Homo sapiens: one gene and its partners. The protein of the gene in region 2 purifies or fractionates together with the protein of the main gene of each other region. This does not show direct contact. Each region holds a gene or a part of one and is shown on either strand. Other genes may lie near its edges. The genes, in order: SF3B1, PRPF8, EAPP and DDX23.

Region 1 (7,024 bases), on a different chromosome or scaffold from region 2:
TGAGCTTGGTAGGTGGAGACTGCAGTGAGCCGTGATTGTGCCACTGCACTCAACCTGGGCGACAGAGTGAGACCCTGTGTCAAAAAACAAATGAAAATCCACCTCTCATCTTTTTTCATTAATCTTGCCAGCATCAGCTAGGGTAATATTATTTGGTACACATGTAACTGTACATACAAACTGATCTCAAGATTGAAATCATGTGACGGTATCTGGTTATAATTACATAGGTGGGGCCTGGTGCGGTGGCTCACGCCTGTAATCCCAGCACTTTGGGAGGCCAAGGTGGGTGGATCACGAGGTCAGGAGTTCGAGACCAGCCTGACCAACGTGGAGAAACCCTGTTTCTACTAAAAATACAAAAATTAGCCCGGCGTGGTGGCAGGCACCTGTAACCCCAGCTACTCAGGAGGCTGAGGCTGGAGAATCACTTGAACCCGGGAGGCAGAGGTTGCTGTGAGCCAAGATCATGCCCCGGCACTCCAGCCTGGGTGACAGAGCGAGACTCTGTCTCAAAAAAAAAAAAAAAAAAAAAATTACATAGGTGATCTAAAGCATGTTTATATTAATTAAACACACACAATTAAACAAAACATCAACAGGACTATTTTCTTAGAACACACGAATTCCTTCTCCCCTAAATATGTGTCTCTAAGCCCCACTTTGAGAAGTACTAATGTAATTAGAGCTGAAAGCCTTCGATTACTGATCTAGATAGAGAAACCTCAGTGATTTCCCCCAGTCACAGAGCTATTAATGGCATATCAAAGATTCATATCGATAATATTTTGTTTTTTTAAGCTGGGACTTTTGTCAGTGCTTCGGATTGAAACTTTACATTGTTTTTAATCATAAACATTTGCTAGAAAGTAGGTATCTTTTCCTATAAGTAGAGGTAGTGTCTTCTAACTTTTCATTAATTATAGTGCATAGAACTAAAACATTTTTCGTTTAAAGTTTTTTATTTTATGGAAATTTTCTAATTATTTCTGTGTGGGTGTGTGAAATAAAATTTTTTTGCTTTTTTAAGACCCCTGGGCATACTCCTTCCTTAAGATGGGATGAGACACCAGGTCGTGCAAAGGGAAGCGAGACTCCTGGAGCAACCCCAGGCTCAAAAATATGGGATCCTACACCTAGCCACACACCAGCGGGAGCTGCTACTCCTGGACGAGGTGATACACCAGGCCATGCGACACCAGGCCATGGAGGCGCAACTTCCAGTGCTCGTAAAAACAGATGGGATGAAACCCCCAAAACAGAGAGAGGTACTTCTAGTGGAGTATGGGTGTGTGGGTGAAATGTTGAGTGATATGTTTACAGACTGAAATGTGTTCTGTTTATTCCTGGGTGGACACGTATAAATAACCAGCTGCTTTTGGGGGACAGATTAAGAATAGAACAGTTCATATGCCTAATTTTTTCCACTTCTTGAAGTGGTTTAAGATTTAAGGAAGAACCTTAGGTAAAAGTAAAGTTAGTAGGCTGTAACCTTTGATTTTGTGTGTTTCTTTAGAGATAGGGTCTTGCTCACTGTAGCCTTGACATCCTAGGCTCAAGTGATCTTCCCACCTCAGCCTTCTTAGTAGCTGAGACTATAGGGGCATGCCACCATGCCTGGCTAATTTTTTTTTTTTGAGATGGAGTTTTGCTCTTGTTGTCCAGACTGGAATGCAATGGCGCGATCTCAGCTCACTGCAACCTCCACCTCCCGGATTCAGGCGATTCTCCTGCCTCAGCCTTCCTGAGTAGCTGGGATTACAGGCATGCGCCACCAAGCCCGGCTAATTTTGTATTTTTAGTAGAGACGGGGTTTCTCTATGCTGGTCAGGCGGGTCTCGAACTCCCGACCTCAGATGATCTGCCCCCCTCGGCCTTCTGAAATGCTGGGATTACAGGCATGAGCCACCGCTTCCGGCCCCTGGCTAATTTTTAAATTTTTTGTAGAGACAATGTCTTGCTTCATTGCCCAGCCTGGTGTTGAACTCCTGGTTTCAAGTGATCTGCCAAAGTGTTGGAATTACAGGCATGAACCACTGTGCCTGACTTACCCTTTGTTTTTTATTATGGAAAAATGTACATAACATCAAATTTACTTTTTTTGTTGTTGTTGTTGAGATGGAGTCTTGCTCTGTCACCCAAGCTAGAGTGCAGTGGTGCGCTCTCGGCTGACTGCAACCTCTGCCTCCCCAGTTCAAGTGATTCTTTTGCTTCAGCCTCCTGAGTAGCTGGGATTACAAGCGCCCACCACCACACCTGGCTACTTTTTGTATTTTTAGTAGAGACAGAGTTTCATCATGTTGATCAGGCTGGTCTCAAACAACTTTAAATGGGTCACCATTTTAGGAATATTCTATTTTAGAACTTGATAGTTTTGAGTATAACTGTTTGAGAATAAAGAATATTATTTTAACAGTGATTAAAATTGTGGTTTTACTCACTCTTTCTTTTTAAAGATACTCCTGGGCATGGAAGTGGATGGGCTGAGACTCCTCGAACAGATCGAGGTGGAGATTCTATTGGTGAAACACCGACTCCTGGAGCCAGTAAAAGAAAATCACGGTGGGATGAAACACCAGCTAGTCAGATGGGTGGAAGCACTCCAGTTCTGACCCCTGGAAAGACACCAATTGGCACACCAGCCATGAACATGGCTACCCCTACTCCAGGTAGAACTGTCTCATTGGACATAATTGTTTTTTTCTCCATAAATTATTTAATTTTTTCCTTTGTGGTATTCTGTGTACTATTAATGTCAACTTCTAGTAAGAATAAGGAGATATACAAATTTAAGTCTTGGTTTGCGTTTATAATATAAAAGCAAATAATAGGATTGATCTTAACTGTCTTTTATCTCAATGTATGTAATAATACAGTCTTGTACTATAGATTATATAAAAATTTGCTTTTCTTGGTAGGTCACATAATGAGTATGACTCCTGAACAGCTTCAGGCTTGGCGGTGGGAAAGAGAAATTGATGAGAGAAATCGCCCACTTTCTGATGAGGAATTAGATGCTATGTTCCCAGAAGGATATAAGGTAGTACATCAAATTTGAATGAGGTGGTATTTAGGATATACATTTATTTTAAATAGTGAAAAAAATTGATTAAGCTTGCATTGGCTTTGCCCAAATTTACTATTGTCATTCCATTCTCTTAGCTATTTCCAGGTATATTTCAGTTCCATATAGAGATGAAAAGAAATGAACAACATGAAACTTTTATTACTTTTTGAAAGACATCTCAAAGACTTGTGTATGGGTCTATCGGTTATACTTTGAGAACTGCTGGTGCTTCAGTTTTCTAGCAGTCCCAGGAATAAGCTCGTTGAGATTGTGGTTATTTTACTTGGTGCTTCACCAAGATTTTATATACTTAAGTTTATGGATTGTCAGTGGACACAAAGAATTTTTTTTTTTTTTTTTTTTTAAAAGATGGAGTCTCACTCTGTTGCCCAGGCTGAAGTGCAGTGGCGTGATTTCGGCTCATTGCAACCTCCGCCTCCCAGGTTTAAGCGATTCTCTTGCCTGAGTTTCCCAGGTACCTGGGATTACAGGTGTCCACCACCATGCCCGGCTCATCTTTGTATTTCTAGTAGAGACAGGGTTTCGCCATGCTGGCCAGGCTGATCTTGAACTCCTGACCTCAAGTGATCCGTCCCTCTCAGCCTCCCAAAGTGCTGGGATTACAGGCGTGAGTTACCGTGCCTGGCCTTTTTATCATATCAACCTAAAATTTATTTTGAACTATAAAATTTTCTAGGTACCTGGTACTCAGGGAGTATTTGTTAGTCTGAAGATAGTCTGTGGTCGTATAGCTGACATCATAACCAGGGGGAACCAGATAACTTTGTAAGTCATCTGATGGCCTTTACAGAGCTTTTTCTGTTAATGACTATTGATTTTTAACAGTTCATGAGTATGTTTTTTGTTGTTTTGTTTTGTTTTAGAGACAGGGTCTCACTGTGTTGCCCGTACTGGAGAGCAGTGGCGCTGACATAGCTCACTGCAGCCTTGGACTCCTGGGCTCAAGTGATCCTCCTGCCTCAGCCTCCTGAGTAGCTGGGGCTACAGGCATGCACTACCATACCTGGCTAATTTTTTTATTTTTTGTAGATACGGGAGTCTCACTGTGTTGCCAGGCTGGTCTCAAACTCCTAGGCTCAAAGTACCCACATTGGCCTCCCACACTGCTGGGGATTATAGGCATGAGCCACTGTGTCCAGCCTTGTTTTGTTTTTGATCCCCTGTTATTTGTGTTAGAGTATTTGTTTCAAGTTTGCATGAAGTTTTGCCTTAAAGCTTTTTGTAGCCTCCACATAATGCTGTGGGTATAGATAGAACTGTGGGTATAGATAGACAGAACTTACTGTTGACTGCCTGCATGTCTTTCTCAGTCGTAGTCATTGATTTCCTTAGTGTCACTAGGAGGAAAAGTCTCCCTTAGTGAATCCTACTAATAAGCAACGTCCTTACTAGTGAATATAAAAATATAGTAGACCTTTAAATCCTTAATGGCAAGTGATGCCTGTGGACTTGACATTGATTTCTCTAGGCCTCACATCTTTAGAGTATCCACTTTATCCAAAATGCTTAGTGGTCTGTGCTGGTGCAGACGTTAACTAGCAACAAAAAATATCTGTGCAAAGTACAGATAGCATCAATATAAATTTAACATAATTTAATCTTTAATAGACAAAACAATTTTAGGCTCACTGGAGAAGACGTGTATAGGTTTATTGACCTCTCCAAGAAGTTGTATTTTTTTTCTTTTACTATATATTAAATTATATAAAATAGAGATGGGGTCTTGCCATGTTGCCAAGGCTGGTCTCAAACTCCTGGGCTCAAGCGTTCCTCCCATCTCAGCCTCCCAAAGTGCTGTAATCCTGGCCTGTCCAGAAGTTGTTTTTTTTTTTTGAAGTCTGTTACCAGCTTTAAAAAAAAAAAAAAAAATTTCTTTGTGATTTTCAGCCTGCATTTTTTGAAATTTTACTCGTTTTGCAAAAGGTTTGATCAGGTGGTGTGTATTTTATAGGGCTTTGGCAAACATTTTGGTTTTAGTTTTTATGCATTTAACTAATTTTTGTAGAGTTTTACACTTAAAAGATTTTGTAGTGCAAGAATTTATGTGACATTTTAATACTAAAATATAATTTTTTATGTTTTATGCCCCATATGAGCTTATTTCCATTTTATATAAATCTTATGAAACATTATTTGCTCGACTACAGCATTTTTTGGAATTGCTGACTCAGATTTTATAATTTTCAAATTTTTAATAATTTGACATTTTGACCCACAACATGTTTGAATGTGATTAGTATTTTCTAAGCTCTTCTCTTGTGTTTCCTCAGTTCCCTACACCACGGATATAATCAGTTAGTGGATGAGAAGTATATATTTTAAGTTTCTAATTAAGATAGAAAAGCAAGATAGATGTTGTCTCCAAGCAAATAAAAACCTTATTAGCTAATAAACTAAAATATTTTAAGTGCAAATATTGTTCATTATGCTGTTTTTTAAGTTAAGAAAATCCTAAACTGTCTTATAACTTTTATTAGGTACTTCCTCCTCCAGCTGGTTATGTTCCTATTCGAACTCCAGCTCGAAAGCTGACAGCTACTCCAACACCTTTGGGTGGTATGACTGGTTTCCACATGCAAACTGAAGATCGAACTATGAAAAGTGTTAATGACCAGCCATCTGGAAATCTTCCATTTTTAAAACCTGATGATATTCAATACTTTGATAAACTATTGGTAAGTGATACTAGCAGAAATAAACTATTAATTGTGTTCCAGAATTATAAATCATAACATTTCAACTTCCCTTAACATTTTTTTCTTTTTACTATAGGTTGATGTTGATGAATCAACACTTAGTCCAGAAGAGCAAAAAGAGAGAAAAATAATGAAGTTGCTTTTAAAAATTAAGAATGGAACACCACCAATGAGAAAGGTAAGTCCCAGTTTGTTAAATTGTCATGTTTGTTGCTTATTTATTTAATTAAAAAAAATTTGTAGTTTTTGTAGAGACAGGGTTTTGCCATGTTGCCCAGGCTGGTCTCAAGTGATCCTCCTGCTTTGGCCTACCTCCCAAAGTGCTGGGATTACAGGTGTGAGGCTCTGCACCTGGCCATGTTTATATTTTTAAAAATGTTTTTAATTTTTTCACCAGGAAATGTAGACCACAAAATAGTAGTGAACTATTGGTATAGCCCGCTGTGGAGTGTGGTCTTTCCTTTACTCTCCCAAATAGCCCAAATTGGTAAAGGTTATTTAGAAAGCCTTCCCCATAAAAAATTAACTTTTGGTAGTGTTATATTTTTGTGTTTAGGAATTTATAATTACTGTCTTCATCTTTATCAAGGACATAGCATGAGGGGAAAAAATTTATGTAGTGTGAAGGATTTAACTTTTTTGCTTGTTTTTATTATTAATATTATATATATATTTTTGAGACAGGGTCTTGCTCTCTTGCCCAGGCTGGAGTGCAGTGGTGTAGTCTTGGCTCACTGCAACCTCCGCCTCTTGGGTTCAAGCAATTGTGCCTCAGCCTTCCAAGTAGCTGGGACTACAGGCGTGCACCACCACGCCCTGCTAATTTCTGTATTTTTAGTAGAAACGGGGTTTCACCATGTTGGCCAAGCTGGTCTTGAACTCCTGGCCTCAAATGATTAACCTGCCTCGGTCTCCCAAAGTGCTGGGATTACAGGTGTGAACCACCATGCCCAGCCGTTTGTTTTTATTATTATTTAAATACTCCTGGGCTCAAGAGATCCTCCTGCCTCAGTCTCCGAAAGTGTTGGGATTACAGGTGTGAGCCACCGTGCCCAGCTGGAGTTAGCACAAAATTCTTTGGTTAAAAAAGCTAATAAAAATGCTGAAAAATGAGATTCTCCTTTTTGTTCTTAAGGCCTTTAAAATATGCTTAAAGCTTGAAGATAATTAGTGAAATTATGTGAGGGATTATGTTAACACTATATGTGCCTTGGAAATGGAAGATACTTCAGGGAAATGA
Region 2 (7,024 bases):
ACCTCCACTTCCCGGGTTCAAGTGATTCTCCTGCCTCAGCCTCCCAAGTAGCTGGGATTACAGGCGCCCACCACCACACCCAACTAATTTTTGTATTTTTTTAAGTAGAGACGGGGTTTCACCATGTTGGCCAGACTGGTCTCGAACTCCTGACCTCGTGATCTGCCCGCCTCAGCCTCCCAAAGTGCTGGGATTACAGGCATGAGCCACCGCACCCAGCCTCCTCCTCAGCAAATTCTGAGTCAGTGGGCCAGACAAGCACTCCACACACAATTCCATGCTACTGCGCCTGAGACGCACCTTATAGTTGATGACGACGTTGTTCTTGGCTGTCATGTAGTCGGCTATGTTGTGGTCCACGATGAGGCGCAGCAGCCTGTTGAGCAGAGTCAAGTCGATCTTCTCATACATCTTCTCAAAGCGGGATTCCAGCATGACATTGCACTCGCCTTCACTCGTCTCCCACACGTCCTGCAGGTTATTGATGCCTGAGGAGTAGCAAGGCAGGTCTCCAGCAGGTTAGAAATCCTCTTGCAAGACTAGCCCCACAGGAACTATCATTACCTTCCATAACCAATCCCACTATGATTCCACGTATTCATTTGGATTGCTTTGACTATGGGCTTTTCCTCAGTTTAACACGAACACTACTTCCCTTTACTACCACGCATCAAGAGAGTAAACCAATCATGCTACCCAGATGAGATTTTTGACGTAGAACTAAATTCCTGCCCCGTTCCTCACAGGGCGATCTCATGAAAGTTCTACCTTGACACCACTTGTAAACAAGCAGCGGAGGTGGTTCTGTGTCTGCAGGCTTAATCCAGGGTGGGAACAGGCGGCGCTTGTCGGCTTCATACCACAGGTACTGGTCCAGGTAAGCATCAGTTATCTTCTCCAGGGGCTCAACATCATATACTGGAACGAGGTGGCTATACAGATCCATGAACTCAATGCCCACCTGTGGGACAAGGAGGCTGGTTCACACCAATCCACCAACTGCTACCTTTGGTAGAACCAAAGGCAACTGCTACCTTTGGTAGAACCAAAAAGAAAACTTGGGAGGCCTCACTCACCTCTTTGAAGGCTCTCTGTGTGAGGAGGTGACGCTTGATGCGGGACAGCGCCTCGTGGGGGTTATCGTAGGCCTGCTCGATCAGACCTAGCTCCTCCCTCTGAGACTGGTTCAACCGAGACTTCACACTGACAAAAGCAATGGGAAGGGTGAATGGGAAAACTAGGAGGAAGTAAAACCAGGAAAGACTGGGGCTACACCTTCTTTCTTTGGACTCTGAGGATGACGCCATTCCCTGCTGTCACCTTCCCAGCAGGAACCTATCTACCCTACTACTCACCTATAAGCTTCCTTGAGCCGCTCCAATGCCAAGATGAGCAACTTGGTGTCATGCTTATAGGAGAGTGGGGGGAATGGGATGGGTGAAAACCTGCGGCTTTCCAACCAATGCACTGTGGTGGTATATACTGCCACTGCTTCCTCCGCTGTGATGTAAGGCCCGTCCTGTAAGGTGGACATGAAATTAGCCTCCCGCTACAGCCCGATCCTGCCAGAACAAGGTTCAGTCACAACTCTACAGTCCTCCCTCTTGCCCACTCCCCCACCACTCACACCCAGCCCAGCCTACTCTGCCCAACCTTCAGGTAGTTGTGCTGCCGCTCCTGTTCTGCCTTCAGATAGAGCCGGGTGAGGCGGCCCAGATTCTTTTTACAAACAGTCTTGTCCACAGTGGCCCCTCGGCGGATCCGTTCTCGGTTGTAGTGGGCAGTGTTGGTCCACCAGTCAGCCTTGGCCTTCACGTATCGAAGGATCATATTCTCTATGGGCGTCGGCAGCCCAGGGACCTAAAAGTCCAAAAAGCACAATCAAGCCAGGATCCAGCCAGGCACTGTGGCACACATCTGTAGTCCCGGCTACTCAGGAGGCTAAGGAGGATCGCTTGAGCTCAGGAGCTTGAGGCCAGCCTAAGCAACATGGTGCTTCTTTTCCCTGTCTAAAAGGGAAAAGAAAAGAGATTGGAGCCAGATAGCCCCCTAATGATTCCCGAAGTGGTAATCCTACCCTAAAGACGGATGTTTACGCCTCCAAGGAAATAAAGAGACACCCACCTTCCAGGGAATGTTGGCTTTCCAGCAGCGCCAGGCTTCACTGAGGTGCTGCAGGATTGTCCGGGCCTTGTTCTGCTTGATCCCCTCAGGCATCATGTCCAGAATATCATGCATCACAGCTGCCCGCAGCTCAAGGTCAAAATGTGACTCCACTCGCTGCTTTGTTACTGTCTTTGCCACCCCCTTTGAGTGTCGACCTGGAAGTAGAGTGTCCCAAGGGGATTACAAGGAAGATTCCTTGCTTTCAATAAGGGTCTCTACCTTCATGCTCCTCACTCATTATGGTTATTAATAAAATTAGGTATTAACAAAGCGTCCCTGTGCCCAGCATATGCAAAAAGACGAGCTACCTTAAACATTCACAACTATGCTTCTGAGGAATTTCCACTCCTGCAAATGCATGACTGCCTCTCAAGGCCCCAGAAGGAAGCCCAAGAAATAGAATACTAGGTCAGACTCATTTCAGAACTGGACCTAAAGGCAATCCAGTAGGAAGAGTGCTCATACAAGAGCAGGGAACAGACTCAAACAGGGGCAGGTACTTTTGAAGCAATAACAGGAGAAGTTGGACACAGAGAAAACCACTCACCTTCAAACTGCCGGGCCAGGAGGTTGCCAAGCCATCGCTCTAATAAAGGGGTAATGCCACGCATGAAAAAGAGCCAGACTCGCCAACCGGCAGCCCAGAAGCCACAGCCAGGACCCTTCCCTACAGGGCCCTACGATCCCAAGCAGAAGTTAAGAATACAAGTTAGCAATGCATTTAAACAACAATAGAAACCTGGGCAGAGGTGGGGCATATATGTATAATATACATACAGAGGAATGTAGGTATGGCAGTAGAGGGGTAAAAAGAAAAAAAAACTCTGGGACCTCAACATCTAAAACAAAAGGGTAAATGAGAAACCTTAAGGCAAAAACCAGGAACTAAGATCGCCCATGTGAATTTAAAGGAGCAGTAAGGACACAGTCATAGCTGCTCTCCAAATAGGTCCCTGGAAAGAGCCCTGTCTAAATGTATACATGAAAAAAGATCTGAGAAAGTTAAGTCCAGTGAGGCTGGGCACGGTGACTCACGCTGGTAATCCCAGTACTTTGGGAGGCCGAGGAGTGTGGATCACCTGAGGTCAGGAGTTCAAGACCAGCCTGGCCAATACAGTGAAACCCCATCTCTACTAAAATTTCAAAAACTAGCCAGGCATGGTGGTGCGCGCCTGTAGTCCCAGCTACTTGGGAGGCTGAAGCAGGAGAATCACTTCAACCCGGGAGGCGGAGGCTGTGGTGAGCCAAGATCGTGCCATTGTACTCCAGCTGGGGCAACAGAGAAAGACTCAGTTTCAAAACAAAACAAAAAAAAAATTGCCAGGCGTGGTGGCGGGCACCTGTAATCCCAGCTACTCGGGAGGCTGAGGCAGGAGAATTGCTTGAACTCAGGAGGCGGAGGTTGCAGTGAGCCAAGATCGTGCCATTGCACACCAGCCCAAGAGACAAGAGTAAGACTCTGTCTCAAAAAAAAGAAAGTCAGTAAAGTCAAGGTCTCACCGTGTTGAAACGATAATAGATGAGATGCTTCAGGTCCTTGCACATGCGAATCTGTCGCATCAGCTTGTATTTGTATCGATACATGCCCGTCAACTGCCCAACATGGGCAAATATATACTGCAATCCATCTGCCAGCTGCAATACAATTGCCCCATCAGACCTGGAGCTTAAACCAGCTCCACGGTCAGCACAGGCTTCCTCCAGCGTCCTCACCCAGGCAGGGGTTGGGAATACCTAACCTTACCTGGAAGGCATCCACATTGCCCAGCCGATACTGCACGTGACTATCCACCACCAGCTTAGTCAAACGCAGAACTTCCCGACACAGGTGGAAAGCATTCCCAAAACGAGATTTCTTTCTTTCCTGGAGAAGATGCAAAAAACAGACAGAACGTGAATGAGCAATGGACCCAACTGATGTATGCCTTCATCAGTAACCAGAGGAAAACAACTGTCCGTCCTTGAAGCCCAGGAGGCCCCTAGGGTCCAATGCAGGCACCTTGGTGGTGAGCGTTTTCACAGGCTTGAGGTTGAAGTTGTAGTCCAGGTGCAGGTAGTTGAGGTTTTTGCGGTGAATGAGAAGGTTGAGCATGTTGTAGCCCTGGCGGCAAACCTGGAGCCCAACCTCCACCCAGTCCAGCTTTGTGGACTGAAAGAATTTGGTGGCTTTGAAGGAGCGGAACAAATACCTGAGGTGGGAACATGGAGAGTAAGAGTCAGCCTACTGATATCTCTGGAACAGAAGTCTGCGCAGGGCCCCTGGGGCACCTTACCTCTTCTTTTGAGCCTTAGGGGGCCGATGCTTCAGGGCATTCAGCACATAGTACTTAAGCAGCTTCTGGTAGGAGACCCTCACTTTCACAGGCTGCCCGGCAGGACAATGCTCCCGATACCTGGAAAAATAAGCCCACCAGAGTTTGGCCATCTCTTCTTCCAGACACTCTGCTAAAGGCTGCAAGCCTTGGGTTGTCTACCATTTTTATGGGAAAAAAAAAAAAAGAATTTAAAAAAAAGGCTACATGCCCACCTAGTTGGAGTCTTTTCTCCTACACATCCACTATCATTCCCCCTGCCACAGGGAAAAACCTTACCAGTTCTTGACAAGGGGTATGTCCAGGGCCCGACGGGTGCGACCAGAGCGTAGGTTGAAGGGCCGCGGGGCCCAGAGCAGGGCAATGCCATTGGCTGTATTGTCTGTATAGAGGGGTGTGTCCTTCAGGAAGGGCTCCACAAACTCCGGGAGCTCAAATTCCTCATCATCATCCGGCAATGGTTCCTGGCTCTGAAAAAGGAATCCCTCTAAGGGTTTAGCTCCTGCTGAACTAGGCACAGACTTAAGATGAGGGAAATTCTCTGGGGCCAAGCACAAAGCCTGTATCTGCTATGGAAACTGGGCTGTCTGACAAAAGCAGCCCTGAAGTGCCAGCACAAAGGAAACCAAGACAGCAAAGAACAAGACAGGGCCACCAGGAAAGCAAGCGTCACTTCTCACACCTCAACTGGCTGACCACCAGAAAGCCTCCCAATGGAGCCCCAACATCACAGGAGGTCAACATTGCAATCATCTCCCACCCAAGCTCCAAACACTGGGCTTGGACACAACGGAACACAGATGAGCATCAAAAACATTATGGTAAGCTTAAGAAGCCAGTCACTGAAGACTACATAGTGTACGATTCTATTTCATTCTATCATATGAAATGTGTAGAATAGCCAAATCTATAGACAGAAAGTAGATTAGTGGTTGCGTAAGGAAGTTGGGGAGAAATGGCGAGTAACTGCTAAGGGTTTCTTTCTCAAGTAATAAAAATATTCTCAAATTGCATGTCGTGACAGTTGGGACAACTCTGAGAATAAGCTAAAAACCATCAAATTACACACTTTAAATGGATAACTTGTATGGTATGTTAACTACATCTCAATATAAAGGCTAAAACAAACAAACACAATAGAGACAGACCGGGACAGATTATCTAGAGCACCCAAGAAAAGAACCGTAAAGTCCAAAAGGATAATCACAGAAAACAGGATTATACCAATGACATGTTTTAAAGCAAATGCTGAATTCTCATATTCGCTTATAGCTCAAGGGGAACACTTAGCAAGACGGAAAACACATCTCCCTCCACCTGAGCGTTTAGTAACATCAGCCAACCTCACGCATTTCTCCTAGAAGAGCTGAGGGAAAGCATCCCTTCCCTTCCTCACCTTGACTGAGTGCCTATGGGAGATTGGGTTGATCAAAGGGTCAAAGTAGAAAGCTGGCAAGTCAGGATCCTCAGTTTTGATGAATACAACATTGGGAGTATGGTACCTAAAATGAAAGGAAGAGTCAGCCAAAGTTTTCCCGCCCTGGCCCAACCTAAACAGCAGCCTTCTCCTTTCCAAATGTTGTGTTCCAGGTCTCTTACCAGGTGAGGTGGACATGGTGTGGAAGATTGTTGTACAAGTAAGGAAAAGCAATCTTGTACTCAGTGCGGATAGGCTGCCGGATGATAATCTTGTTAATATCATTGAATTCATTCCAGTCTTCATCCCTAGGGTACAACATCAAGAATAAGCAGACTTTTTTTTTTTTGAGACAGGGTCTCACTCTTATCACCCAAGCTGGAATGCAATGGCATGATCATCGTTCACTGCAGCCGTGACCTCCTGGGCTCAAACAATCCTCCCACAGCTCAGCTTCCCAAGTAACTGAGACTACACGAAGCTGTGAGTGTCACCACGCCCAGCTACATTTTTTGGTAAAGATAGGGTTTTGCCATTTTGCCCAGATTGGTCTCAAACTTCTGGGCTCAAGCAATCCTCCTGCCTCAGCTTCCCAAAGTGCTGAGATTACAGCGTGAGCCACTGCACCTGGTGTAAACAGACTAATTTGGAAGTTATATCAGGACTTTAAGGATCAAGATTACGTTTCATTCAACTCAAAATGTCTAAAATCCCTAATCTCTCCAACTCACTGTAGGTTGATGTCTCGAACAAGAGGTTCAAATTTGGGGCCTCCAGGAATGGCCATATTGAGTGCCTTGGACGTAAAGAAGGCCTTCAAATCAAACAGGTAGAAGTAGTTGTCATCCACCAAGTCTGTCAGGAGCTGATTAGCCAGGCGGTAGAGAGTCGACATCATAGGTAGTGTGAACTGCCAGCGCTGGTAAGTGGAGCCATTTACATACCTAGGTAAAAAATGAAAGGCCCACCTCAAGTAAGCAGCTAGACAAACCCATACCACCTACTGATCTCCCAGGACTCCTTCTGCATTTCCAGAACTCCTCCCAGGTGTAGTATCTCCATCTATCACTCACTTCCTGCTGTCCCTCAACGGCTGGTGGTCATAGAACCAGTCCAACACAGGGGCGTC
Region 3 (7,188 bases), on a different chromosome or scaffold from region 2:
GTTGCCCAGGATGGTTTTTTTGTTTGTTTGTTTGTTTGTTTCTTTTGAAACAGAGTCTCGCTCTTGTCGCCCAGGCTGTAGTACAGTGGCATGATTTCTGCTCACCGCAACCTCCACCTCCTGGGCTCAAGCGATTCTCCTGCCTCAGTCTCCCAAGTAGCTGGGATTACAGGATTCAGAATCCGTCTCAAAAAATACATAGATAGATATATAGATAGATAGATATCCTGGTTGTGATACTGCACTATAGTTTTGTAGTATGTTAACACTGGAGGAAACTGGGGAAAGAGTACACAGGATCTCTCTGTATTATTTCTTTTTTTTTTATTATTTTTTATTTTTTGAGATGGGGGTCTCCCTGTGTTGCCCAGGCTGGAGTGCAATGGTGCCATCTTGGCTCACTGAAACTTCCGCCTCCCAGGCTCAAGCCAACCAACCGCCTCACCCTCCTGAGTAGCTGGGACCACAGATATGCACCACCATACCAGCTAATTTTTTGTATTTTCAGTAAAGACATGATTTCATCATGTTGCTCAGGCTGGTCTTGAACTCTTGAGCTCAAGTGATTCTCCTGCCTTGGCCTTCCAAAGTGCTGGGATTACAGATGTGAGCCACTGCACCAGACCTGTATTATTTCTTATAACTGAATGTGAATCTACGAAAACTTCAAAATAAAATGTTTAATTTTTAAAAACTGAATCACAAAGTGAGAGCTATTTTTTCTACAAATTTTCTTCAATCCTTGTCATTATCTCAACCAAAGTCTCAGTTTTCAGCACTGCTGAGAAAGGCAGTCATACATCATGGACCCTAGATATGCAAGTTAAGTATGCCAAGAATGCAAGGTTCTGACCACTGTTCACTCCAGCCATTTCTCAGGATTGTGTTTGCAGCGAACAACAACCTTGAGGAATGAGATAATGTCTCCTTCCAGGACAAAGAGCAGATGTATTTACTGTCTTCTATGAAAGAGGTGGATTCTCCAAGCTCAAGTAGTCTTTAGCCACGATGCCAACCCACTGAATGTGCAGCATTCTTCTAGGACCCTCAGCGTAATACCTGTAGGGTTGACAAGCAAGAGCAAGCCACACAAACATGATGCTCATGCTGCTTGCTGTGCTATGTGTAGTCTTATCTTTGACCCAGGAGTCTCATGTCTTCGGTCAGCTACCGTGAAACAGTTAACAGGCTACAATGTATTAGTTTATAAACAGTGTAAAATTAAATACTGACAGACACCTCTCTAACACTAATCTCCCTTTTTAAAATAATAACCATTTGGCTCAGAGCCTACAACAGGCAATACTGTCTGATAACATTGTTTTGTTTTTATAATATTTATCTTTACAGTTACCTTACCAGTGGCAACTGTCACAGAATTATAAAGCTTCCTTAAAAAAATGATACAACAGTCCTGGCTCCGTGGCTCAGGCCTGTAATCCTAGCACTTTGGGAGCCCGACGCAGGCAGATTGCCTAAGGTCAGGAGTTCAAGACCAGCCTGGCCAACGTGGTGAAAACCCATCTCTACGAAAAATACAAAAAATAAGCCAGGTGTGGTAGCGCATGCCTGTAATCCCAGCTACCCAGGAGGCTGAGGCAGGAGAATTGCTGGAACCCAGGAGGTGGAGGCTACAGTGAGCCAAGATTGCACCAGTGCACTCCAGCCTGGCTGACAGAGTGAGACTCTGTCTCAAAATAAATAAATAAATAAATAAATAATTGAGACATACATATATACATACCTCCTTTCACAGACAGGACCCATTAACTGAAACTCTTTTTCACAGGGAATCCTGGTATCTATCCTCACTCCCAACAAAAGAAATCTTAACAGCAGTCTGATTTCCCATGCATCCAATGTCTCCCCATGACAATATGAGGAAACATTGTTCTTTTGATTTTTTTTTTTTTTAAGAAATGAGGTCTCACTATGTTGCCCAGGCTGTTCCTTTACTACCAGGCTTAAGAGATTCTCTCGCCTCAGACTCCCAAAGTCCTGGGATTACAGGCATGGGCCACCACACCCAGCCAAAGTTGTTAATGAAAGCATGGCTTTACAGAAAGCTTCTTTAGGCAGAATGAATGTTTTAAAGTTTAAGAATAGGATCTGCTGACAGCTTAAGAAATAACTAAATTTGTGTGGAAATATCTCGGCAAAACAGCTTCAAGTTTCCCTGGTAGAATAAAGCCCACCCTTCTGGAAATCCCACGAACCTTCTTCTGTGCCTATCTCAGGTCAATATTCTCTACAATGCTCTGCCAAGAAATATATACTTTATCTTATTACCCTTATTATACTATAAGCCTCTGGAAGACAAGGACCTTATGATTTATCTCTGTAGCTCAGAGCGAGCATACAACAGTCCCTGTCAAAAAATAAAAATAAAAAAGGCTGTTCAATATTCCCTTATTTCTGTTTATGGCAGTTTAGTCTTCAAGATGGACACTTCACATTAAGTCCTGTGAGCCTCACAACAAACATAGTGTGTTATACTATGTTATATAGGTTATACAATTATGTTATTATAGTTCAATTTTACAGGTGAGTAATCGAGGATAACTGACTTGCCTTCCGTCACTCTGCTACTAAGGTGTAGAGACAGGTTTCGATCTCATTGCTTTTGAAGATTTACACGCGGTCCCCCGTGATTCCGGAATATCCCTCTTCCTACAGGCGACATCGGCACCGCCTCCCCCCGGGACTGCGCGACCCCATCAGGAAAGCCCTTTGGCTTCGCACAAGTAACAGGCACGACAGGCTCCCGAGCCGCTAGGGTCTGCGTAGGCTCGGCAGGCGCAACGAATGGAGGCGACCAAAGCCAGGCCTCGACCCAAATCCTCGGGGGCCAGGGTGGGGCGGGAGCCCACCTGCTCAAAGCCGGCTCCTCGTCGCTAGGCTCTTCAACCGCGTAGGGGTCGTAGTCATCCGGAAGCCGGTTCATGGTGGCCTGCAGCGGCCTACACCGTCCACAAGCAATTTGCAGCGTCTCTGTTTACACTGCAAGTCCAGTCCCTAAAGCGCCCCTGACGCCACTTCCGCCTGAACGTCCCAGTCCCCCTTGCGCGCCCGCGCAGACCGACAGCACCGAGGGAGGCAGGTAGAAGGCGGGGAAGGGGCGGAGCAGGAGCGAAAAGGGGCGGGGACGGGACGGGGGCGGGTCTTAATCCCACCATTTTTGTTTTGTTTTGTTTTTTGGAGACGGAGTTTCGCTCTTGTTGCCCAGGCTGGAGTGCAATGGCGCGATCTCGGCTCACCGCAACCTCCGCCTCCCAGGTTCAAGCAATTCTCCTACCGCAGCCTCCCGAGTAGCTGGGATTACAGGCATACACCACCACGCCCGGCTAATTTTGTATTTTTAGTAGAGACGGGGGTTTCTCCATGTTGAGGCTGGTCTCGAACTCCGGACCTCAGGTGATCCGCCCACCTCGACCTTCCAAAATGCTGGGATTACAGGCGTGAGCCACCGCTCCCGGCCAATCCCACCATTTTCTTCCGCAGCTTCTGCTTACAGGAAAATAGCAGCTACCTTGTCACCAAAAATAATAATGATGGGCACCCTCATAAGTGACAGTCTCTGAGGTGAACATGCTACATGCAGCGTCTCATCACCTACGAAGCAGGAATCTAGACGCTGAGGGACACACAGCCCGAAATCCAATAAGTCCTCAGACACCAGCACCCACATCCCTCCAACCTCGCCTCTAACCCTTATGCCTTCCACACCATGAGGCTCTCAACCTCTCCTTCACACTGTTCACTCCTCAGTCTGACTGCGGCCTCAACAATCTACGAAAAGTTATCTTTTCTCGTCATCTTCCCAGTCCCCACTTTTGCTCAGCCCTCAACTGATCCCACTCGATACCTGAGGAGAACAGGCAGATGACAGCCACTTGAGCTCCATCGGGAGACTGTTTCTAACCCTGTTTCTGAACCAGGAACTCGGGTTCCTGCCTCCTACCGAGACACTGTGGCACTCTCTAAAATGTGGAGTAGCTGTAATAAATCTACTCCTGTATTATGCTTTACAGTGCAGGTCTTAGTTTTTCTTTTTTCTCATTTCTTTTGAAATGGCATCTCGAACAAAGTCCACCAATCCCTTTACAAAAGAATGAACTGCTCCTCTGTGTGTACTTCATAGAAGGTGGAATCGGACAGAAGCAGGTTAGTGACAGTTATTCCTGAAATACAGGAGCAGAGTACAGTCTGTTGTGGTTTCCCGGATTCCGCGCCTAGCTCAGCCAATTAAGCATGAGACATAGGCCATTGAGCCACTTAGTAGTTATGCGAGTGGATAGATTGGTATGTAGAGGGAAAGAGGTCTGCTGTAAAGAACAACACTTGTTTGTCTGTGGGGAAAGAAAAGCAGAATACTTGAGATGAAAGTTGGCATACAAATAGGATACTATCGCCAGTAGTTATATTACAAACATTATCGGCCTTTCTAGTGTGAATGAACATTAGACACATTATTGTCATTCCTAGTTTAAAGTTAAGGTTGCGTGGTTGGATTTTTCCACTATCTTTTTCTAATTTTTCTACCATTTGGAGACCGTAGGCATTTGGGCCTGTCACCCCTTGGATGGGTTCCTAGTTTGTTTACATTTTCCTGAACCCTCCTGAGCGCCCGTTCTTGGTCTAATCCCCAGTCGTGATGATTCCACACTTCCTCAGCCGCATGTTGTCTTGCCTCATTCATGAGCTGGTCAGCGTTTCGTCTCTTTAACTGACATGTTCCCCAGTGCTGTTTGAACTGTTGAGTTTCCGTTGCTGGCTGAGTGCGTTTTGTCCTTCACGTAACCTTCGCTGGTAAAAATAAGCCCATGTGATGTCCACCAGTGGATGAATGCTGGACCGAGAGCCCTAGCTTCTGGATCCAGGTCTAGGCCCTTCATCTGCTGCTCTGTGGCCCAGGGCAGGTTTGCTTGACCTCTGCCTCAGTTCTCGACTCTAAAGGACATACTGACCTACCTCACAGGGGTGTTGTGAGGATTAATAAATGTTGGTACTCTGCTTTGGAAATGTGAAAATGCTGTGTAAATGTTAAGAAATACTAAGTATAGGGCCAGAAGCTATACAGTGTTTCACTTAACCGTTTGCCATTCTGTATTTACCAAGGTGGTCTTTTCTGGGGAAGGAAGTAGAGTGGAAGGTGCATCCCTTGGCCCCTGGTTTACATTATTAGGGTGCTTATTGTAGGAATGCACTCTAAAAAGTGGGCGTAGAATGAAAGCAGCCGTCCAGTGGTCCTCCCTTTTCTGTAGTTTCACTTTTCTTGCTTCAAGTTACAGCAGTCACCTGAAATCTGAAAATACTAAATGAAAAACTCCAGAAACAATTTATGTCTTAAATGTTGTGCTGTTCTGAGTAGCGTGATGAAATCTGTTGCCGTCCTACCTGGAACATTGAGTCATGCCTCTGTCCAGTGTGTCCATGCTGTATACACTGTCCACCCATCAACCAACCACTAAGTAGCTGTCTTGGTTGTCAACATAACAGATCACAAGAAGATTGAGGTTGGGTGTGGTGGCTTACCCCTGTAATCCCAGCACTGTGGGGGTCCAAAGTGGGAAGATTGCTTGAGCCCAGGAGTTCAAGACCAGCCTGGGCAACTAAGCGAGATCCTATCTCTCGAAAAAATTTTAAAACAACTTTTTGGCTGGGCGTGGTGGCTCACGCCTGTGATCCCAGCACCTTGGGAGGCCAAGGCGGGCGGATCACGAGGTCAGGAGATCAAGACCGTCCTGGCTAACACGGTGAAACCCCGTCTCTACTAAAAATACAAAAAATTAGCCAGGCGCAGTGGCGGGCACCTGTAGTCCCAGCTACTCGGGAGGCTGAGGCAGGAGGATGGCGTGAACCCGGGAGGTGGAGCTTGCAGTGAGCTGAGATTGCGCCACTGCACTCCAACCTGGACGACAGAGCGAGACTCCGGCTCAAAAAAAAAAAAAGAATTAGCTGGGCGTGGTGGCGGGTGCGTGTAATCCCAGCTACTCGGGAGGCTGAGGCAGGAGAATCACTTGAACCTGGGAGGCAGAGGCTGTAGTGAGCCAAGATCGCGCCATTGCATTCCAGGCTGGGCAACAAGAGCGAAACTCTGTCTCTAAATAAATAAAATAAAATAAAATAAAATAAAATAAAATAAAATAAAAAATGGCATGTAATATAAAAATGAGGGGAGAACCCTTTTAGGCAGGATTTAACTTTGGCTACAGGTAACTAAAACAATGAGCAGCTTAGACAGGACTTATTTTTCTCACCTACCCAGAATTTAAGGGGTAGCAGTTTGGGGCTGTTGGCCAGGCTATTCACCAGGCGGCCCCTCCTCCGTCTGCTCTACCATGCCAGGTGTAAGGTCTCCCGGCCATGATTGTTGCTTCCAGGTACCAAGGCGGCCGCTACACTCCAGGCCTGAGTCTGACTTCCAGGTAGAAAAAGGGGGTAGGGACAAAGACTTTCTTCAAAAAGTGGCTTGGCCTTTTTATTCTCCTGGAGATGCCCTTTCCGGGGACGTGTGTCTAACTGGCCAGAACTGTGTTGTGTGATGAGGAAGTTGAGCTGTTTTAGCTGGGTGTGTTGATCCTGTGGACAAAATCAGGGTCTGTTAGTAAGACAGGAGTGGCCACTGCAGGATACCCTGCCAACAGCACAGAACGAGTCTGGACCTGAGAAACAGTAAAACTGACCTGTGATTAGAGGTTTCGTTTGTTGTTGTTGTTGTTTGTTTTTTATGTGTTTTTTTTGGTTCTTGTTTTGTTTTTTGTTTTTTGTGACGGAGTCTCACTCTGTCGTCCAGGCTGGAGTGCAATGTCGCGATCTCGGCTCATTACAACCTCCGCCTCCTGGGTTCAAGTTTTTCTCCCGCCTCAGCCTCCGGAGTAGCTGGGATTACAGGAACCCGCCATCATGCCCAGCTAATTTTTGTATTTTTTAGTAGAGACGGGGTTTCACCATGTTGGCCAGGCTGGTCTTGAGCTCCTGACCTCAGGTTATCCGCCCGCCTTGGCCTCCCAAAGTGCTGGGATTACAGGCGTCAGCCACCGCGCCCGGCCCAGAATTTTTTTTTTTTTAATTATTTTACATGAGAGGCCGGGTGCGGTGGCTCACACCTGTAATCCCAGCACTTTGGGAGGCCGAGGAGGGCAAATCACGAGGTCAGGAGATGGAGACCATCCTGGCCAATATGGT
Region 4 (7,024 bases), on a different chromosome or scaffold from region 2:
TGAGGTAGGAGGATATGAGCCTGGGAGGCAACGGTTGCTGTAAGCCAAGATCACACCACTGCACTCCAGCCTAGACAATAGAGCGAGACTCCATCTCAAAAAATAAATAAATAAATAAATAATAAATACATAAAAATCAGAGATTCAGCCAGGTGCAGTGGTTCACGCCTGTAATCCCAGCACTTTGGGAGGCCAAGGCAGGCAGATCAGTTGAGATCGGGAGTTTGAGACCAGCCTGGCCAACATGGTGAAACCTCATCTCTACTAAAAATGTAAAAATTAAGGACAGGCACACTGGCTCACGCCTGTAATTCCAACACTTTGGGAGGCTGAGGCAGGCAGATCACTTGAGGTCAGGAGTTAGAGACCAGCCTGACCAACATTGAGACCCCGTCTCTACTAAAAATACAAAAAAATTAGCCGGGCATGGTGACGGGCACCTATAATCCCAGCTACTTGGGAGGCTGAGGGAGGAGAATCACTTGAACCTGGGAGGAGGAGGTTGCAGTGAGCCGAGATTGCGCCATTGCACTCCAGCCTGGGCAACAAGAGCGAAACTCCGTCTCAAAAAACAAAACAAAACAAAAAACCAAAAATTAGCTAGAAGTGGTGGCACACGCCTGTAATCCCCAGCTACTCAGGAGGATGAAGCAGGAGAATCACCTGAACCTGGGAGGCAAAAGTTGTAGTGAGCTGAGATCGTGCCACTGCACTCCAGCCTGGGTGACAGAGTGAGACTCTGCCTCAAAAAAATAAATAAAATAAATCAGAGACTCCAGGATAGCAAAGTTCTCCAGGTCTTTGCCAGCAACATATACTTCTTCGATATCATGATCCAATTATTCCCTAATATCCAACAAAGAATAAAGAAGAAAGCTTCTGATTATAGACGTAAAACAAAAATCAAACATTCATTTGCCACTTTCACCTTTCCTACCCAGACAAACCCACTCCAGCTGGTGCTAGCTGACCTCACCTGTCAATTTTGGGAAGTGTGGTGATCCAGACCAGCAGAGGGATGAGGAAGGCTGCTGTCTTGCCACTGCCAGTCTCAGCCACACCAATGATGTCACGATTCTGTAGCCCAATGGGAATTGCCTGACGCTGTATAGGTGTTGGTTCCTGCAGTGACCCCAAGAAAGAGTAATAGGTACAGGGAGAGTTATACCACCTGGGCAACCACTGATAGTAGTAAGCACATCTGCTAGCACAATGGAAGGATGCCAAGTACAGTTCACAGAAATAGGGACCCCAAGAAGAAACCTAATCACTAAAAGCCAACACTTCTACCAGAAAGTGACAGAAAAGGTCACATTGGTGCCCACTAGCAGCGATGGCTCCAAATAGTCAAGGAACAAAGTTCTCTATTCCCAAACTAGTGTAGGAACATGTCAGATCTCTTGGGCCAATCTATCCCTCCTTACCTTGTAGCCACACTTATCAATGACCTCCAAGATGTGTGGGGGCAGAGAAGAGTCTTTCCAGGATCGGATGGGATTGGGGATCTTGCCACCTTTGGTGGTGATGCTGTAGTCCTCACGGAAGATCCGCCAGTCCCTGTCCGTCATCTCATCTAACTTTTTCTGAGACCAATGACGATCATCCCAGCGCTGCTTGGCTTCCTTCTTACGAAGTTTGCGGAGTCTTGCCCTGGAGCAGGGTGTGAGGAGTAAGTAGAATCAGTGCCCTCCAACTCCTTTCTGTAGAGCCTCTGGGCTCTGTCCAGCCACCCTAGCCTTGATCACTCACTCCTCCTGCTCCTTTTCTTCCAGGGTTCGCCTCTTCTCCATTAGGTCTCCATAGAAACGTGACTGCTCTCGCTTCTGCTGCTTGAGGTCAATGCCTGCAATGAAGCCTCGCCCTAACAACTGCACCTGGTGCCGTTCTTTGTACCTGGGATTGAGATAGAGGAAAAGAAAAAAGAAGGAGCTGTTAACGGCAGTAGGAAGGAAGGGCAGACTACTAGTATGAAACAGTTCTTCCCAGACAGGGTCTTTCTTCCACCAGAGGGCTGGCTGACTACCAGTCTACCAATTTTCCATCCCAGCTTATCTTACTTCCTCCACCTCCGTAGTCATCAGCTCTCTAGGACTGCCTAGTGGAAAAGACCTAGAACTCAGGCCTGAAGCCACTCACAGGGGGTTGTAGTCAATGGATGTGTCCTCAGATGCATCCCACTCAAAAACAAATTTCCGGTCATTGAGATGTCTCGTTCGGCGCCGCTTTTTGATGCCACCCAGGTAACGCTCCTACCCAGGGACAGAACACAAAGCACATGAGCTTTGAGGCCCAATTCTCACATGCAGAGATCACAATGGCCAAATAACTAAACCTCATTTTTGTGTGGGAGAGAAGTGAAGATGGAGCCAAGGCCTGCACCTTAATGGCATGCAGTTCCTTGCTCTTATCCTTCTCTTCCCGGATCTTCTGCCGCCCTTCCTCATCCTCATTTCCATTGGTCTCCCGTTCCATCCTCTCCCTGCGTTCCCGACGTTCCCGTTCCTGAGGATCTTCTGCAGACCAAAGAAAGCAAAGCTGCAGAAGAGCTCATGGAAGAAAAGAGGAGAGGGAATGGAGGGAATCCAGACGAGGAACCCCAAATGAAGAAAAAAAGGGGTAGACTTATGATATGGGGTAAATGGAGATCTAACAGAAAAATGTTTTCTCATAAACTCCCACCATCCTTCCCCTTTCCAAACTCCAGAGTGAACAGGTTTCTATCTCTCCTAAGAGACACTGTATCTCATCCCACTCTTTCCTCTTCCATCTAGGGGCTACACAGGGTAGAATAACAAACCCAACATCTTCCTGCCCAAGTCTTGGAACTGTTTCCTTTTCTTCCTCTCTTCTTCAAGCATCCTCTGCCGCTCTTCCACCTCCTGCTGCCGTCGCTTTAGAGCTTCAGCCTCTCGTTCTGCTTTAGAGAGGAACTTGGGCTACAAAAGAGATTGGAACTGTCAACAAAGGATCTGGGAGCAGGGTACAATCACATCACTGATGGGGAGATGGCAGGGAACCCAAAAGTATTTGCTCAGGCATTAAGCCTGTTGAGGAAAACACAAATAGGCCTTGGACTCGGTTATGGACTGAACTATGTCCCCTACAGAATTCATATGTTTTTTCAGGCTGGACGTGGTGGCACATGCCTGTAATCCCAGTGTTTTATGAGACCTAGATGGGAGGACCGCTTGAGGCCATGAGTTCAAGACCAGCCTGGGCAACATAGCAGACCTTGTTTCTACAAAAATAAAAAAACTCAGCCAGACATGATGGCATGTGCATATAGTCCCAGCTACTCAGGAGGCTGAGGCAGGAAAATCATATGAGCCCAGGAGTTTGAGGTTACAGTGAGCTGTGATTGCACCACTGTACTTTAGCCTGGGCAAACGAGCAAGACCTTACCTTTAAAAAAAAAAAAAAAATGTGGCCGAGTGCGGTGGCTTGTGCCTGTAATCCTAGCACTTTGGGAGGCCGAGATGGGCGGATCACGAGGTCAGGAGTTCAAGACAAGCCTGGCCAGCACAGTGAAACCCTATCTCTACTAAAAAAATACAAAAAATTAGCCAGGCATGGTGGCACGTGCCTGTAATCCCAGCTACTCAGGAGGCTGAGGCAGGAGAATTGCTTGAACCTGGGAGGCAGAGGTTGCAGTGAGCCGAGATCATGCCACTGCACTCCAGCCTGGGCAACGGGGCGAGACTCCATCTCAAACAAACAAACAAACAATGCATGTGTTATATATATTTTTTGAGACAGACTCTCGCTCTGTTGCCCAAGCTGCAGTACAGTGGTGTCATCATGGCTCACTGCAGCTTCAACCTCCTGGGCTCAAGCAATATCCTTGCCTCAGCCTCCTGAGTAGCTGGGACTACAGGCGCATGCTACCACAGATGGCTAATTTTTAAAATTTTATAGAGATGGGTTTTCACCATGTTGCCTAGGCTGGTCTAAAAATCCCTGGCTCAAGTGATCCTCCCATCTTGGCCTTCCAAAGTATTGGGATTACAGGTGTGAGCCACTGTACCCAGCTCAAAATTCCTATGTGGAAGCCCTAACTCCTAGTACCTCAGAATTTGACTATATGTGGAGACAGGACATGTAAAGAGGTGATTAAGTTAAAATGAGCCCATTAGGCTGGGCACAGTGGCTCACGCCTGTAATCCCAGCACTTTGTGAGGCCAAGGAGGGCAGATCACTTGAGCCCAGGGGTTCGAGACCAGCCTGGACAACGTGGTGAAATCTGGACTCTACAAAAAATACAAAAATTAGCTGGACGTTGTGGCACGCACCTGTAGTCCCAGATACTTGGGAGGCTGAGGTGGGAGGATTGCTTCAGCCTGGGAGGTGGAGGTTGAAGTGAGCCGATATCATGCCACTGTACTCCATCCTGGGCGACAGAGTGAGACTCTGTCTCAAAAAAAAAAAAAAAAAAAAAAAAAAGGGCCTTTTAGGGTGAGCCCTAATCCAACACAAGGGGTACATGTGTACAGAGGGAGGACCATGTGAAGAGCTGAGGAAGAAGACAGCCTTATAAGCCAAGGAGAGAGACCTCAGAAGAAATAACCCTGCTGACACTCCGCTCTCAGACTTCCAGCCTCCAGAACTGTGAGAAAATTAACTTCTGTCGTTGAAGTCACCCAGTCTGTGGTATTGTGTTATGGCAGCCTGAGCCGATGAATGAAGACCCTCAAGTACTTACCTTAGCCTCAGCTTCTTCCTCAGCCTTTTTCTTGGCCAGAAGCTCCTCCAGGGATAATGGCTGGGCCTGAAGATAAAACAGAACTTTAGTCTATAAAGGCTCTCTCCCTTTAAAGATCAACAAAGCAACGCACGAGTTGAAGATGAAAAATATCCTTCCTCTCCTTTACCTTAGGCTTCTTATCACCATGTTCATCCTCTTCATCCTTCTTAGAGTCTCTGTCCTTCCGAGATTTAAAGTCTTTTCCTCGACCAGGAGATAAGCTTTGAGGAAAAGGAACAAGGTCCACATCACTCTTACTTCAGTGCCTGGATGAGGTTCAAGTTGAGCCCCGAAAAGAGAATGGAAGTTTCCCCATGACTCAACAAGACTGGCCCATGGTCATCTATCATGTCTTGAAACTCTCTTAGCAGGCATGGTCATTCTGCCAGCTCTGAAACCTAATTATGGCCCTGTCTTGGCCCCTTTCTACCCAAATCTCCTTTTGAGACTAATCTCTTTTGGGAAGTGGGACTTTACTACTGATGTCAAAAATATTTCCCCTAGGCCAGGCGCGGTGTCTCATGCCTATAATCCCAGCACTTTGGGAGGCTAAGACAGGTGGGTTACCTGAGGTCAGGAGTTCAAGACCAGCCTGGCCAACATGGCAAAACCCTGTCTCTAGTAAAAACACAAAAATTAGCCAGGTGTGGTTGTTTAGAGAAAAATTTTTTTTTTTTTTTTTTTTGAGACACAGTCTCACTCTGTCGCCCAGGCTGGAGTGCAATGGTGTGATCTCAGCTCACTGCAACCTCCGCCTCCTGGGTTCAAGAAATTTTCCTGCCTCAGCCTCCTGAGTAGCTGGGACTACAGGCGAGTACTGCCACCACTGGCTAATTTTTATATTTTTAGTAGAGACGAGGTTTCATCATGTTGGCCAGGCTGGTCTCGAACTCTTGACCTCAGGTGATACATCCACCTCGGCCACCCAAAGTGCTAGGATTACAGGTGTGAGCCACAGCGCCTGGCCCTCCTTAACTCTTTAATATACAATGAATTTAGCCTACATGGCCACCACCACAAGCCAAGAAGATACTGCTATCTATATTCCCTCATCATTTTTCATTCCTATCAATCCCAACAATCCTTTCCCCATACCTGCTCTAAGCTTAATCTACAAGATAATTCAAACAACCCCACTGAGTTTCTGTTAGGAGCATTCTGTCCTCTGCCTTGAATTCTAACCTATACTTTCAGGGCCTGATAAGAACTCTGTATACAGGCCAGGCACAATGGCTCACGCCTGTAATCCCAGCACTTTGAGAGGCCGAGGTGGCCGGATCACCTAAGGTCAAGAGTTCGAGACCAGCCTGGCCAACATGGAGAAACCCTGTCTCTACTAAAAATACAAAAATTAGCCAGGCATGGTGGCGCATGCCTGTATTCCCAGCTACTTGGGAGGCTGAGGCAGGAAAATTGCCTGAACCCAAGAGGCAGAGGTTGCAGTGAGCCGAGATCGTGCCATTGCACTCCAGCCTGGGCAACAGAACAAAAACTCCATCTCAAAAAAACCCCCAAAGATTCAGAGAAGAATCCATAGATAGAAAAGCTTCAGGCTCCCTCTCCCCTCTCCCCTCTCCCCACGGTCTCCCTCTCCCTCTCTTTCCATGGTCTCCCTCTGATGCTGAGCCAAAGCTGGACCGTACTGCTGCCATCTCGGCTCACTGCAACCTCCCTGCCTGATTCTCGTGCCTCAGCCTGCCGAGTGCCTGCGATTGCAGGCGTGCGCCGCCACGCCTGACTGGTTTTCGTATTTTTTTGGTGGAGACGGGGTTTCGCTGTGTTGGCCGGGCTGGTCTCCAGCTCCTGACCGCGAGTGATCCGCCAGCCTCGGCCTCCCGAGGTGCCGGGATGGCACACGGAGTCGCGTTCACTCAGTGCTCAATGGTGCCCAGGCTGGAGTGCAGTGGCGTGATCTTGGCTCGCTACAACCTCCACCTCCCAGCTGCCTGCCTTGGCCCCCCAAAGTGCCGAGATTGCAGCCTCTGCCCGGCCGCCATCCCATCTAGGAAGTGAGGAGCGTCTCTGCCAGGCCGCCCATCGTCTGAGATGTGGGGAGCGCCTCTGCCCTGCCGCCCCGTCTGGGATGTGAGGAGCGTCTCTGCCCGGCCGCCCCGTCTGAGAAGTGAGGAGACCCTCTGCCTGACAACCGCCCCGTCTGAGAAGTGAGGAGCCCCTCCGCCCGGCAGCCACATCGTCTGAGAAGTGAGGAGCCCCTCCGCCTGGCAGCCACCCCGTCTGGGAAGTGAGGAGCGTCTCCGCCCGGCAGCCACCCCGTCCGGGAGG

What was found.
Region 1: the proteins of PRPF8 (region 2) and SF3B1 purify together in Homo sapiens (affinity purification with mass spectrometry; 5 studies listed by BioGRID and IntAct, with this or other methods). This does not show direct contact.
Region 3: the proteins of PRPF8 (region 2) and EAPP purify together in Homo sapiens (affinity purification with mass spectrometry; 5 studies listed by BioGRID and IntAct, with this or other methods). This does not show direct contact.
Region 4: the proteins of PRPF8 (region 2) and DDX23 purify together in Homo sapiens (affinity purification with mass spectrometry; 7 studies listed by BioGRID and IntAct, with this or other methods). This does not show direct contact.

Annotation. Positions count from the first base shown.
Region 1 is NC_000002.12:197,404,014-197,411,037, reverse strand, and holds part of SF3B1 (splicing factor 3B subunit 1), read left to right. Parts: intron 1-1,030; coding exon 1,031-1,268; intron 1,269-2,456; coding exon 2,457-2,669; intron 2,670-2,918; coding exon 2,919-3,040; intron 3,041-5,565; coding exon 5,566-5,763; intron 5,764-5,860; coding exon 5,861-5,962; intron 5,963-6,183; exon of another isoform or gene 6,184-6,320; intron 6,321-7,024. UniProt on the Homo sapiens protein: Component of the 17S U2 SnRNP complex of the spliceosome, a large ribonucleoprotein complex that removes introns from transcribed pre-mRNAs.
Region 2 is NC_000017.11:1,674,852-1,681,875, forward strand, and holds part of PRPF8 (pre-mRNA-processing-splicing factor 8), read right to left. Parts: coding exon 6,969-7,024; intron 6,840-6,968; coding exon 6,627-6,839; intron 6,204-6,626; coding exon 6,078-6,203; intron 5,981-6,077; coding exon 5,875-5,980; intron 4,949-5,874; coding exon 4,758-4,948; intron 4,560-4,757; coding exon 4,440-4,559; intron 4,356-4,439; coding exon 4,166-4,355; intron 4,031-4,165; coding exon 3,911-4,030; intron 3,802-3,910; coding exon 3,667-3,801; intron 2,844-3,666; coding exon 2,714-2,843; intron 2,322-2,713; coding exon 2,125-2,321; intron 1,861-2,124; coding exon 1,654-1,860; intron 1,520-1,653; coding exon 1,356-1,519; intron 1,204-1,355; coding exon 1,077-1,203; intron 962-1,076; coding exon 769-961; intron 489-768; coding exon 301-488; intron 1-300. UniProt on the Homo sapiens protein: Plays a role in pre-mRNA splicing as core component of precatalytic, catalytic and postcatalytic spliceosomal complexes, both of the predominant U2-type spliceosome and the minor U12-type spliceosome.
Region 3 is NC_000014.9:34,536,685-34,543,872, forward strand, and holds the start of EAPP (E2F-associated phosphoprotein), read right to left. Parts: upstream 3,018-7,188; 5' UTR 2,945-3,017; coding exon 2,871-2,944; intron 1-2,870. UniProt on the Homo sapiens protein: May play an important role in the fine-tuning of both major E2F1 activities, the regulation of the cell-cycle and the induction of apoptosis. Promotes S-phase entry, and inhibits p14(ARP) expression.
Region 4 is NC_000012.12:48,835,145-48,842,168, forward strand, and holds part of DDX23 (probable ATP-dependent RNA helicase DDX23), read right to left. Parts: intron 4,963-7,024; coding exon 4,869-4,962; intron 4,766-4,868; coding exon 4,700-4,765; intron 2,937-4,699; coding exon 2,798-2,936; intron 2,514-2,797; coding exon 2,380-2,513; intron 2,250-2,379; coding exon 2,137-2,249; intron 1,894-2,136; coding exon 1,750-1,893; intron 1,651-1,749; coding exon 1,425-1,650; intron 1,123-1,424; coding exon 977-1,122; intron 1-976. UniProt on the Homo sapiens protein: Involved in pre-mRNA splicing and its phosphorylated form (by SRPK2) is required for spliceosomal B complex formation.